Linked DNA regions of Homo sapiens: region 2 is linked to region 1. The links come from fine-mapping of genetic effects on gene expression. A gene starts in region 1. The other region holds a variant in brackets. All regions are shown on one strand. Distances are between the middles of the regions.

Region 1 (5,362 bases):
CCAAATGTGGCAGTGACTCATTCCTCCACGCCTGAGCCTCTGTTCCCCTGTGAAGGAGCTCTTCAGGATGATCCTGCCTCACTGGCTCGTGAGGAGGCTGCAGGGGGACAGGTGTGGGCTCCAGGGACAAACCTCTTTTATTCCCACTCACTTGGAGAGCCAGGGGCTCCCTCAGGCTATAGGGTGGCCTGGTGGGGGTGGCCTGGCGGGGGCAGCCTGGTGGCCGGAGTGCGGGATGGGCTCCAGCCTGCTGCATCCTCCGTGCTCCCGTGTGCAGCTGCGAGTGAGCGGGGCTGTGGGGGGACTGGGTGGGGGGCACAGCAGGGAGTGCCCAGATCCAGAACCATCTCCACAGCTGGGAGCGCGGAGCCAGGTGAATGCTGTGTACAGCACCTGTGGGGGCCCCAGCCCGCCCTGCAGAAGTGCATGGCGCCCACCAGAGCTGGCAGCTCATAGGGAGGGGCCTGGGCCTCACGGGAGCAGAGAGGTCTAAGGAGGGTCAGGGGCCGGGGCTGCCCCACGCTGAGGGCGCCCTGGAGGGTGAAGAGCAGTAGAGCGCTGGACATGCCCCCTGGCGGCCCAGGACAAGGTGGCGGGGCAGAGGCAGTGTGGAGGGAGCATGGGCTGAGGACCACCTCTAGGACCTGGGGGATCTCTGGAGCGAGGGATGTGCTTGCCTGCTGCTTAGGACGGAGAGCAAGGGGGGAGGTCCCCCACTGTTCCAGGAAGAACTTTCTAGGAAGCCACAGTCCCTTCCGGCAGGAGGGGCTCGGACAGCCCTGAGCCACACAGGGTGCTGGGCTGACTCCCTTCGTCTTGGGCCCCAGCCCTCCTCTCTGGAGCTCAGGAAGGAGGCCACAGAACCCGGAGAAGGGACGGTGCGGGGGCCCTTGTTCCATTATTGGCAGCAGCCCCAGGCAGGCTCCAAACCCCAGACGCGTGCATCCCAAAGTTGACCCCTTTGTGCCTGGAGCTGTAAGTCAGCCCATGGGCAGCAGACTTGGCTGCCCTGGCATGGGGCATGTAGCCCCAGGGTGGCGGCCCGAGAGAGTGCCCAGTGTGCAGCTCAGTCAGAACAGATGGGGGCGCTGAGAGCAGCTGCCGGCTGGCAGAGGCCCAGCCCTGGGCCCTGGGGGACAAAGCAGGTCTGGCCTCCTCGGTGGCACTGCCAGCCACGGGGTCACCCTGGCCAGAAGTCTGTGGCCCTCCCTCTCCCATGTCTGGCTAGGATCGTCCCAAGCACCCTCCCTCAGGCGCGGCCCCAATTGCCCCCCAGGACGGCCTGGCCCCCTTCCACCTCTGCCTCTCCTTGGCTGACTCACCGGGGTCACCCCCACCCAGCAGGCAGCTTTTACCCCCTCCACCACCTGCAGACCTTGCGGGGAGCCAGGTAAGCCCTATCCCAGACCCAGACAGGCCCCAGGTGATCACTGTAAATGAGGAAGGGGGGTGTCTTGGGGGTCCTCAAACCATCCTGGGGCTGGGTCCTCTGGTTCCCCCATGGAGGGTCCAGCGTCACACCCATGGCATGCGCCACCCCCTAAGGATCGGGTGTCCCCAACTCAGCGACTTGTATTTATAGCTGTGCCCTGGCCCGCTGCCGGGGTGGTGGAGTAGGGGTGGGTGGAAGGAGGGCGGTGTGTGTGGGTCGGGGGTTGTGTGAGTGGTGCGTGTGCGTGCGTGGGTGGGGTGGCCCTGGGAAAGGTGCTCCCGGAAGGAAGGCATCCAAGCGGGTGAGTGACCGGCCAGGGCATGGGAGGACAGGGGCCGTCTGGGTCGGGGGAGGGGGGCTCGCTGGGCGGTGGGGGAGGGACCCGGCGCCCCAGCCCGCACCTGGCAGCGGCTGATGATGTCGGCGTCCGTGGCCAGCAGGTCCACCACCTTGCCTTTGCCCTCGTCCCCCCACTGCGCGCCCAGCACCACCGTCACGCGGGAGCCGGTCGCCGCCGCCTCCTGCTGCAGCCGCCCCCGCTTGACGCCGCCTGCGCCGGGGGGCCGGTCGTTGGAGGCTCGGGTCCCCGACATGCTGGCTTGGCTCTTCCGCTGCGCTGGCCCGGCCAGGAGCCCGCCGCCGCCGGCGTCCGCGCCATTAAATGGAGCCGGGCCGGGGCAGGGGGCGGGGCAGGGGGCGGGCCGGGGGAGGGCCAGGGCGGGCGCAGTGACGCCCCGGTGACCTCCGGCCGCCACATCCCCGCCCCCTCGCCGCTGCCCGGGAAGCCCAGTTGAGTCTCGAGCACTTTAGGGGTGAGGGGCCGCACGGACCAACGGCCAGGCAGGCAGATGGCCTGGGGAGCCGCCCCCACGAATTTGCCAACGGAGGCAGTTTCTCGCTAGCCCGTCGGGGACCAGGGCTTGTGCACCGCGACCTCACCCCCCACCAAGCCCTTGCCGGGCCCAGGACTTCGGGGTTCCAGCAACTGCAGGGGTGGTCGTTCCCTCCAGGGAAGGAGTGCGGTTTGCAAAAGGGGAGCTGCGTCCTGCACCCCACCTAGAGGGTCCGCACTCTCGAGGAGCGCACCTGCCCCCCGTGGAACCCCGAGTGCCCTGGGCGCGGGCGCGCCCCCTGGCGGCCGCGAAGAGCCGCGCAGCGCGTCCTCTCCGAGGACTTTGTGTCCCCGCAACTGCCCGCACTTCTGCCCCACGGCAGGGGCCCCGCGTCCCGCCCGGGCGCGCTGTGGCTCGGGCCTGGCTGTAGCGAGCAGGCGGGCTCCAGCATGGAGCTCCGGCCCTCAGCACCCAAGTCTGGGGTAAAGGGACCCATCCTGTCAGCGTCACCTGGCTGGCATGGGAGCAACCCCCAGGGATGCACGCCACCGTGGGGCCCAGGTTCCCAAGAGGTCCCACACCAGACCTTCCCGGCCCAGCCTGTGGAGGGACTAGGCCCCAGAGGGAGGCGATGGTCTGCGAGGCTCCCGTGTTCCCGGCTGGTTGTCCTGTCTCACCCATCCCGCCCCACCCCTCCCAAGTAGATGAGGCTTGGAGGAAGCCAGCCCTGGTGGCCAAGAGAAGGGTCCTGGGGCCCCAAGGGCGGAAAAGAGAATCAGGTTCTTGCTTCAGAGCAGGGAGGCGGGGTCCTTTGTTCCCTCCCTGACGGCTCTCAGTTGCCAAAGAGCCTGGAGCCACGAGGCCCCTTGGGCTCAGGGCAACTCCAAGGCTAGTGACAGGGAGTCCATGGAGACGGGACACTCCCTGTGAGGAAGGAGTGGAGCTTGGGCCTGTCACAGCAAAGGTCGCTCACACTGAGTTAGTGATTCAGGTGCAGCCAAGGACACCACTGCCCACCCCTGCCTGCAGCCTCCCCACCCCTCCTCTCTTGGCACCTGACCGTGCCCCAGCCTGGGGGAGAGGGGCTGTTTGAAGCCTGGCCTCCTGCCCCCTGCACCCATGTCCCCAGTCCCCTCTTCTTCCACTGGGCACATCGACACTTCCTCTCCCTCAGCATCCTTGCGGGGAAAATGCCGTTGTATGGGTTCCAAGCAGTCAGTGGGGCCTCAGTGGAAAAGCAGTCTTCATGCATGAACTTCCTAGTGCCACCTTGGGGGTGACAGCTGGTCGGGGGTGAACAGACCACCGGCCCCAGCTTGGGAAGGGGCTGGAGCAGGGTTGGAGGGCTCTGAGATTTGGCAGAACCTGGAGCCTGCTGAGAAGGGGCTGCACCTGAGGGTGGGGCAGTGGGTCTGGGGGTGTCAAGGAGGGAATTTGGGGCACAGCAGAGAGCTGTGCAGGTAGGGAAGAGGCAGACTGCAACAGGAGAAACCAAGAGCGTCATGGAGGTTTGTTTCCAGATGAGAGAAACCGACAATGTTAAATGTCCACCAGGAACCACAAAGTCCCATCAGACAAGGAGGTGCTGCCAAGGCCTGGGGGGGGCCACCAGCTCTGAGCCCTTCCTGGGGACCCCTGGGGCTCTGGGCTAGCAGATGTCAGATAGAGGCTTGGGGGACTGGGGGACATGCTAGACCACCTCACTAAGGGGGCTTGGACTGACCCTGCAGAGGCGAACGCTAGTGACTCACTGACTTCTCCAGGCCCGGACTATAAATAGCCACGGGCCCGGGTAGGGGCAGGGAGTTGGGGCTTTTCTAAAAACAGTCCTGCCCAGGCCCAACAGCTGGGGCCCCTGCCAGTCACACGGCTCAGCCCGAATTAGAACACCTCCACCCCTTACCCCCCACAGTGGGCCTGTCCCCAGGTGTGGGCAGCACGGGAGCCACCGAGCTTGGGGCCATCCATCTGGGCCCTGCTGTCTCGATGTGTGACCTTGGGCAAGAACGAGGGTGCATGGGTGTGTCCACCTGTGGGTTCCACTCTTTGGGGGCCACACCTCCCAGTGGGACCATCGCACACAGTGGCCCAGGACACACAGACACCCACAGCCACCTGCATACACGCGTGCAGCCACGGAGCCTCGCCATGCAAGGCACCCCCAGAGCTCCTGTTGGTTTTGGTTCCTTTGCTGGCTGTAGCCCACTAAACTGACTTCTCATGGAGCACAGAGGAAAAAGAAAAACCAGGCTCCAGGAAGGGCAGCTCCTCCTGTCACAGGGTCCCCAGTCCCACCTCTCCAGGCAGGAGGGGCGATGGTCTCACTTGCTGCAGATGACCTTGTAGGTGACCCCACCCAATACTCCATAGTCCAGTTTTACTGGCAGTTCTGTGGAGGGTGGGGAGGGGGAGGAGTGGAGCTATTTAACTGAAAAACAATAGCATGGATGGGAATGAAAAATGGTGCAGCTGCTTTGGAAAACAGTTAGGCAGTTACTTAAAAAGTTAAACATAAACTTAGCGTGTCGCCCAGTTGTTCCTCCGCTACGAATCTACCCCAGAGCAACGAAAACTCGCAGCATCCACATGAGACTACACAGACGTCCACAGCAGCATCCACACGAGGACGACGCAGACGTCCACAGCAGCATCCACACGAGACTACGCAGACGTCCACAGCAGCATCCACACGAGGACGACGCAGACGTCCACAGCAGCATCCACACGAGACTACGCAGACGTCCACAGCAGCATCCACACGAGACTACGCAGACGTCCACAGCAGCATCCACACGAGGACGACGCAGACGTCCACAGCAGCATCCACACGAGACTACGCAGACGTCCATAGCAGCATCCACACGAGGACGACGCAGACGTCCACAGCAGCATCGAGGACGACGCAGACGTCCACAGCAGCATCCACACGAGACTACGCAGACGTCCACAGCAGCATCCACACGAGACTACGCAGACGTCCACAGCAGCATCCACACGAGGACGACGCAGACGTCCACAGCAGCATCCACAGGAGGACGACGCAGACGTCCACAGCAGCATCCACACGAGGACGACGCAGACGTCCACAGCAGCATCC
Region 2 (5,362 bases), 34 kb before region 1:
CGGGAGTGGTATATCCTCGGCCCCAGGGCAGCAAATCCCACTCTGGGCCTGGCTCCAACCCACCACTTGGGCACCACTGACTTTTCTCTAAGAATCAGCATAATTTGCTCTTCTAACAGCTTCCCAGGAACAGCAAAGGCTCTTCTCAACTGTCCCCAGCACATGCTCCCACCCACCCTCTGCCCCAAACAACCTTTACTCTAGTCCAGAGCTTCTCAGAGGGGCTGTGGCTCAACTGCTCACTCATCCCTGGAGGGGCTGGGACCCGCCTCAGTCGACTTGTGTGGGGACCAGCACTCAAGCAGCCTGCCCTCTTCTGTCCTCCAGGCCACCCCGCCTCCTCTCCTGTCAACTCCTCTTCCTTCAAGGCCCCACACAAGCTACACCGACTCCAGAGGGAGCACAGCTGGGCCCATCTCCCCTGCTAGAGCAAAGCTCCTGGAGGGCAGGGGCCTATCAATCACACGGGGCCTGACCATACAGGCACCAAAAAAGTAAAGTGGACACCAAGATGTGATGGATCAGGCGTGCATGACAGTGGCGTCTGGGGATGGGGCGCGAGTATCACCTCTCTCCGTGAAGGTCTAGTACACTGGTTGTGTACCCTGGAGCCAGACCTGGGTCCTTTCTCCCCATTTACCAGCTGGGCGAGCTGGGGAGGAGCGTGCTCTGGGCTGAGCCTTCCCACCTGTAGCAGGGGGCGAGTAAGGGGCCTCACACAATGCACAGTGGGGTCTCTAGGAGCTGGCGGGTAGACAGCAGGTGCAGCAGGCCCCGCCCACTGACTGCTCCTTTGGCCCTCCCAGGTGGAGGGTCACAAACTCCACCCTCAGAAGTGCTGACAGACAAGAGTCCTCTTGTGCAAATATAAAGAGGTTTATTCATTCTGTCATTAGGATACAAAATAGAACATGTAAAAGGCACCCCTCCCGTCGACCCCACAGTTCAGTGTGAACACCGAGCGCTCGTCCAGGGAAGGCTGCCATGCACGGCGTGGCTCCCGGTGAAGGCAGCCGGCTTGAGCCAGCCTCAGGTCTCGAACATGGCACAGCTGGTGCACAGCACTTTCTCGTACATGTCACTGCAGCTGCGACAGCGTCAGGGAGGGGAGAGAAAAGCTGCTGTCAGGGGCTGAATTGTGTCCACCACCCCCCACCATTCAAACGTCAAAGTCCTAACCCAGAACACCTCAGGACATGACCTTATCTGGAGACAGGATCACTGCGGGCATCATCAGTCTAGATGACGGCACTGACATGGGGGCCCTAAGGCAACACGACCAGCGTCCTAAAAAGACTACGTGAAGAGAAGGACACAGAGAAGGAAGACGACATGAAGATACAGGGAGGGGGCAGCTGTCTACAGGGAACACCAAAGATAACCAGCAGATGCCAGGAGAGAGGCCAGGACAGGTTTTCCATTGCAGCCTCAGAAGGAACCAGCCCTGCCAGCACCTTCCTCTCAGACTTCTGGTCTCCAAAGCCACGTGGCAGTACCTCTTTGCTGTCTATGCCACTGGGTCTGCGAACTCAGTTACAGCAGCCCTAGCTGATTCCCACTGCCGATCAATCCACATGGGGCCCAACCTGGGTTTCCAGTAGGATAGAAGCTCTCCAAAGAAACCTCCAGATGACCTGCCAGAATTCACCGAACCACAATGGTTTACACTGAAGCACATCAAACAGTGCTTTTCTGATATATCAAGACTAAGGGTAGGGCCGGGCATGGTGGCTCACGCGTATGGTGTGGCTTACCTCAGCACTTTGGGAGGCTGAGGCCGGAGGATCACCTGAGGTCAGGAGTTCGAGACCAGCCTGGCCAACATGGTGAAACTCTGTCTCTACTAAGAATACAAAAATTAGCTGGGCGTGCTAGCGCACGCCTGTAACTCCAGCTACTTGGGAGGCTGAGACAGGAAAATTGCTTGAACACAGGAGGTGGAAGTTGCAGTGAGCCAAGATCGCACCACTGCACTCCAGCCTGGGTGACAGAGCGAGACTCCGTCTCAAAAAAAAAAAAAAAAGAAAGCTCTAAAGGTAAAGGCTAGGGAACCCGGCAAAACACAGGGAGAAAGTGATTAAGAGAGATGTTGCGAGGAAACGGGACTGGCAATGGCTACCCCAAACACGACAGGGCCGTGGAGTCAACAAGGCAGCCAGAACTGCTTGCCACTTGGTTTGCAGAGTTTGCCAGTAGTATTGTGGGTGAGCCGCGAAGACAGCCCCTCACCGCCACCGGCAGCCAGCTGGAGAGCCCTGCAGAGGACGGGCCAGGCGTGGGCCAGTGCAGGCCATCAGCAGGACGCCAAAGGCTGCTGGGCTGCATCTGTGTTAAACCAGAGCCGTGTGGACAGATCCCTGTTTTCCCCCACTCCTGCGACGCCTGGTCCTGAAGTAGGAAATGGCAGGGGAGGGGGTAGGAGACTGCGGGTGCCACCAGCTGGGCTGCCTGGCCTGGGAATGCCACTTCTGGCTTGTGACCTGGAACAAGTCATTTATTTGTGAAAGAGGGCAGAGCCCACCTCCTGTGCTGTAGCTGCGATAAAAGAGTGTGTCCACAGTGGGGACAGTGGCCCACTCAGCTCAACGTGAACTCTGTGGGTATGGGAGGAAGCAGCAGCAGAAAGTAGGTAGAGGCCAGGAGGAAATGGGCGCAAGGGAGTCCCTCAAGGATGGTGTGCAGGGCAGGAGTGGGAGGCCAGCCACGCAGCGCTCTGGGACCCACCTCTCCGCTGAACCTGCCCATGGCTATGTTCACTTCTGCTTTGGTGAGAGGGCCACCAGACAATGAGAAAACCCTGCCCTTTTCAGTTTACTTCTAGGAAAGAAGATGAACTCAGCGGGTGAAAAGCAAAGACAGAGTATCCCACATTCATAGCTAGCCCTGCAGATGATTCCCAACCTGGATGGGGTGCGTTACCCCACTCCTGCCCATGCTGAAGCCATGGGAGCCGATCACTGGCACGCGGCGCTTCTCCCTGGTGCTGCCCCCCCTGCCCAGGGCTCTCCGTCTCCAATGAGTCTGGGCCTCTGCCCCGACTGAAGAAAGGCTCGAGAGAAAGGACTCGAGATGTAACATGTGGTTTCTATTTTAGATGGACAATTTCAGACATTGTTTGGACTAAGCTTGCTTTGGGTCTATGGAGCCAGTTCCACATGTGTCTGGATGAAGTCATCTTTCTCACGGGGCAGGGCAAACAGGCTCCACACTGTCCACTCCCATCCACCAGGTGAGTAGCCCCTAGGGTGAGAACGCCCCTCCCCACCTTAGGAGTAAGGACGGGATCCAGCCAGCTGCAGCAAACCCACCCACAAATGGGAGACTAC[A/G]CAAACACTCCACTTCCTGCCTGAGAGGGTCTACAACCAAACGGCACGCATGACTGTGGTGAAGCTGCGGTGTGCACCTGTGTCACCAACCAGGGGCTCCTCGGACGGGGGGAGGGGGGGCTCAAAGACCAGAGGAGGAGGAGGTGGGGGTGCTCAAAGATCAGAACAGGAAGTGGCTGAAGACAGGGACTAGAGCCGGATACAGAGCAGGTCATCTGTGAGGTTCAGCTTTCCCTTAGAGAGGATTACTAACCACTAAAGTTGGGCCAAGCATCTATTGCCACCATGTCCCGTTAGGCAATGCCAGATGGCACTGCATCAGGGGCCACACGTGTGTGTTCTGGGCCCACATGGGTGACCCACCCGTCCCCCATCACGGCTTGCTGGGGCTATGGGATCTCAGCAGCTCCAGGGACTGAAGTACTTACTCCACGAGGCCACACAGGGTACAGGCCACGGAGCCGCAGCCCCAGCAGGTGCGCACACACTGCCCGCACAGGGCTCGCTCACACTGACCGCAGACCGCCTTCCCATCCACGGCTCGCACGCATGAGGAACAGGCAATGGACGCTACCCCAGATGGGTCTGTGAGGAAGAAACGCCAAGCCGTCAGGCTGCAAGGAGACTGGAGTTTCCGGGACTGCCGGGCTACCTGCCTCCATGCATACCTGAGGGCAGAGGGCTCTGACCTGCCTACCCCATCCCCACCTACACTGGATCCTTCTGACAACCCGTGAGCCTGGTACAGTGCACAGGACCCCCGTTTTACTACAGAGATCCAAGGTGAGATATGCCTGTAGTTGACTCCAAGTTCAGTGCTCTTTCCCTTACCAGGTCCCTCTGCTACCTGGAGGCTAGTGCTGGAAGGACCATTCTTCCCCTGTTGCTTGTCAGAACTCCATGTGTCCCATCTGGGTCTCAGTGTGGCCCACTGCCTTACTGGTTAACAAAGAGGTGCCTGGGCTCCTCCTAGACACACCAACCAGACTTGAGGTAGAGTCGGGGATTGCATTTCTAACCAGCAACACAGGTGATGCTCTGAGACCCCACACTGCATAGGGATGGGACTGGCATGTTTCCAGCCTTGTGGGACTATCTGAGGGGGCTGCAGGCGGAAAGCAGACGGGATACCCGGGGAGTCTCTGCTGCTTTTTTGGCCCAGTACTTAGAAGCTGTTTAACAACTTCCAGTCTTGAATGTGAGACCTCCTGATAACAGGAGCCTTCTGAGCCAGAAGGCCAAGCTCTGGGTCAGAGTCCTGCTTACCCAGGGAGGAAAAGCCTGACCTTGCAAATCAAGAAAAATGCTCGTGCCACCACCTGCCCTCAGTGCCACAGCCACAAAGGGCTGCTGGTGCCACTCACCAGCTTCGGAGGCCTGCCCAAGGCTCCTGATCAGGCGGCCGTCTGGTCCAATCAGCATCTGCCCACGTGCAGCCCTCGGGGCCCCTGTAGGGCCAGGCTTTGGGGACTCTGGCAGGTGAACGACGGCACAGCCTTCATCCCACACGTGGTCCAGGTAGGCCTGGGCCCCGAGGAACAGGAGTCGCTTGGTCTTCTCTGGGGGAAGATAAATCATTCTCACGTCCTTCACTGTGTACCAACGAAGCCCCTGCATGGCCATTGAGTCTTTCTAGCCTCACATGAACCCCATCGTCCTCCTGTGTGCCCTCTGTCTCCCAGTAACCCCAGCCTGTGTTGTGCCCTGGCGAGCTGGGTCCTGCTCTGCCTCTATGCTGAGAATGCTTGTGCGTCCTTTCCTTACCTGGCTTAGCTGTCATCTCCTCCAGGAAGGCTCTGGCCCTGCAGCCCCACCTGTGTCTGATGCAAGGGTTCCCTCTCCTATCACTCGGCTCATTTTCTGCAATTCACGGCTGGCCTCGCCTCACTAAGCTTGTCCCCTTTCTCCCTTTTCTGCTTCCCCAGCACTCCCCACCTGGAAACCAGGCTCTGTGGAATGCACAGAGGGAGCTCTGCACTGTGGAGCACTAATTCACAAAACTCGTCCCCTGCCAAGGAAGCAGCCAGAGGCTTGGA

Alleles and levels. Positions count from the first base shown, and alleles are read on the strand shown. Sizes are in standard deviations (SD) of each study's normalised expression.
For the expression in sun-exposed skin of the gene that starts at base 2,067 in region 1, allele G in region 2 goes with a lower level than allele A (moderate effect, 0.55 SD a copy in GTEx).

Evidence for each region. PIP is the estimated chance that this variant, and not a neighbour inherited with it, causes the effect.
Region 2: its variant is the best candidate, but not a certain one, in a credible set for the expression of ADSS1 in sun-exposed skin (GTEx, PIP 0.59).

Annotation. Positions count from the first base shown.
Region 1 is chr14:104,720,934-104,726,295 of GRCh38, reverse strand. It overlaps ADSS1 (adenylosuccinate synthase 1), which reads right to left and starts at 2,067. Exons shown (of 13, transcript NM_152328.5): 1 at 1,834-2,067. The coding sequence starts at 2,025. INF2 (inverted formin 2) reads right to left here. Exons shown (of 23, transcript NM_022489.4): 23 at 3,761-5,362. RefSeq lists enhancers at 320-1,020, 3,817-4,316 and a silencer at 1,851-2,260.
Region 2 is chr14:104,755,153-104,760,514 of GRCh38, reverse strand. It overlaps SIVA1 (SIVA1 apoptosis inducing factor), which reads right to left. Exons shown (of 4, transcript NM_006427.4): 2 at 4,691-4,885; 3 at 3,755-3,911; 4 at 861-1,087. The coding sequence ends at 1,030. It overlaps LOC107987209 (a long non-coding RNA gene), which reads left to right. Exons shown (of 3, transcript XR_001750915.3): 2 at 3,095-4,109. Among named protein-coding and RNA genes, the nearest start is that of SIVA1, 4.7 kb to the right of the region's middle. RefSeq lists enhancers at 1-171, 172-1,120. The variant A/G (reference allele first, on the strand shown) is at 3,327.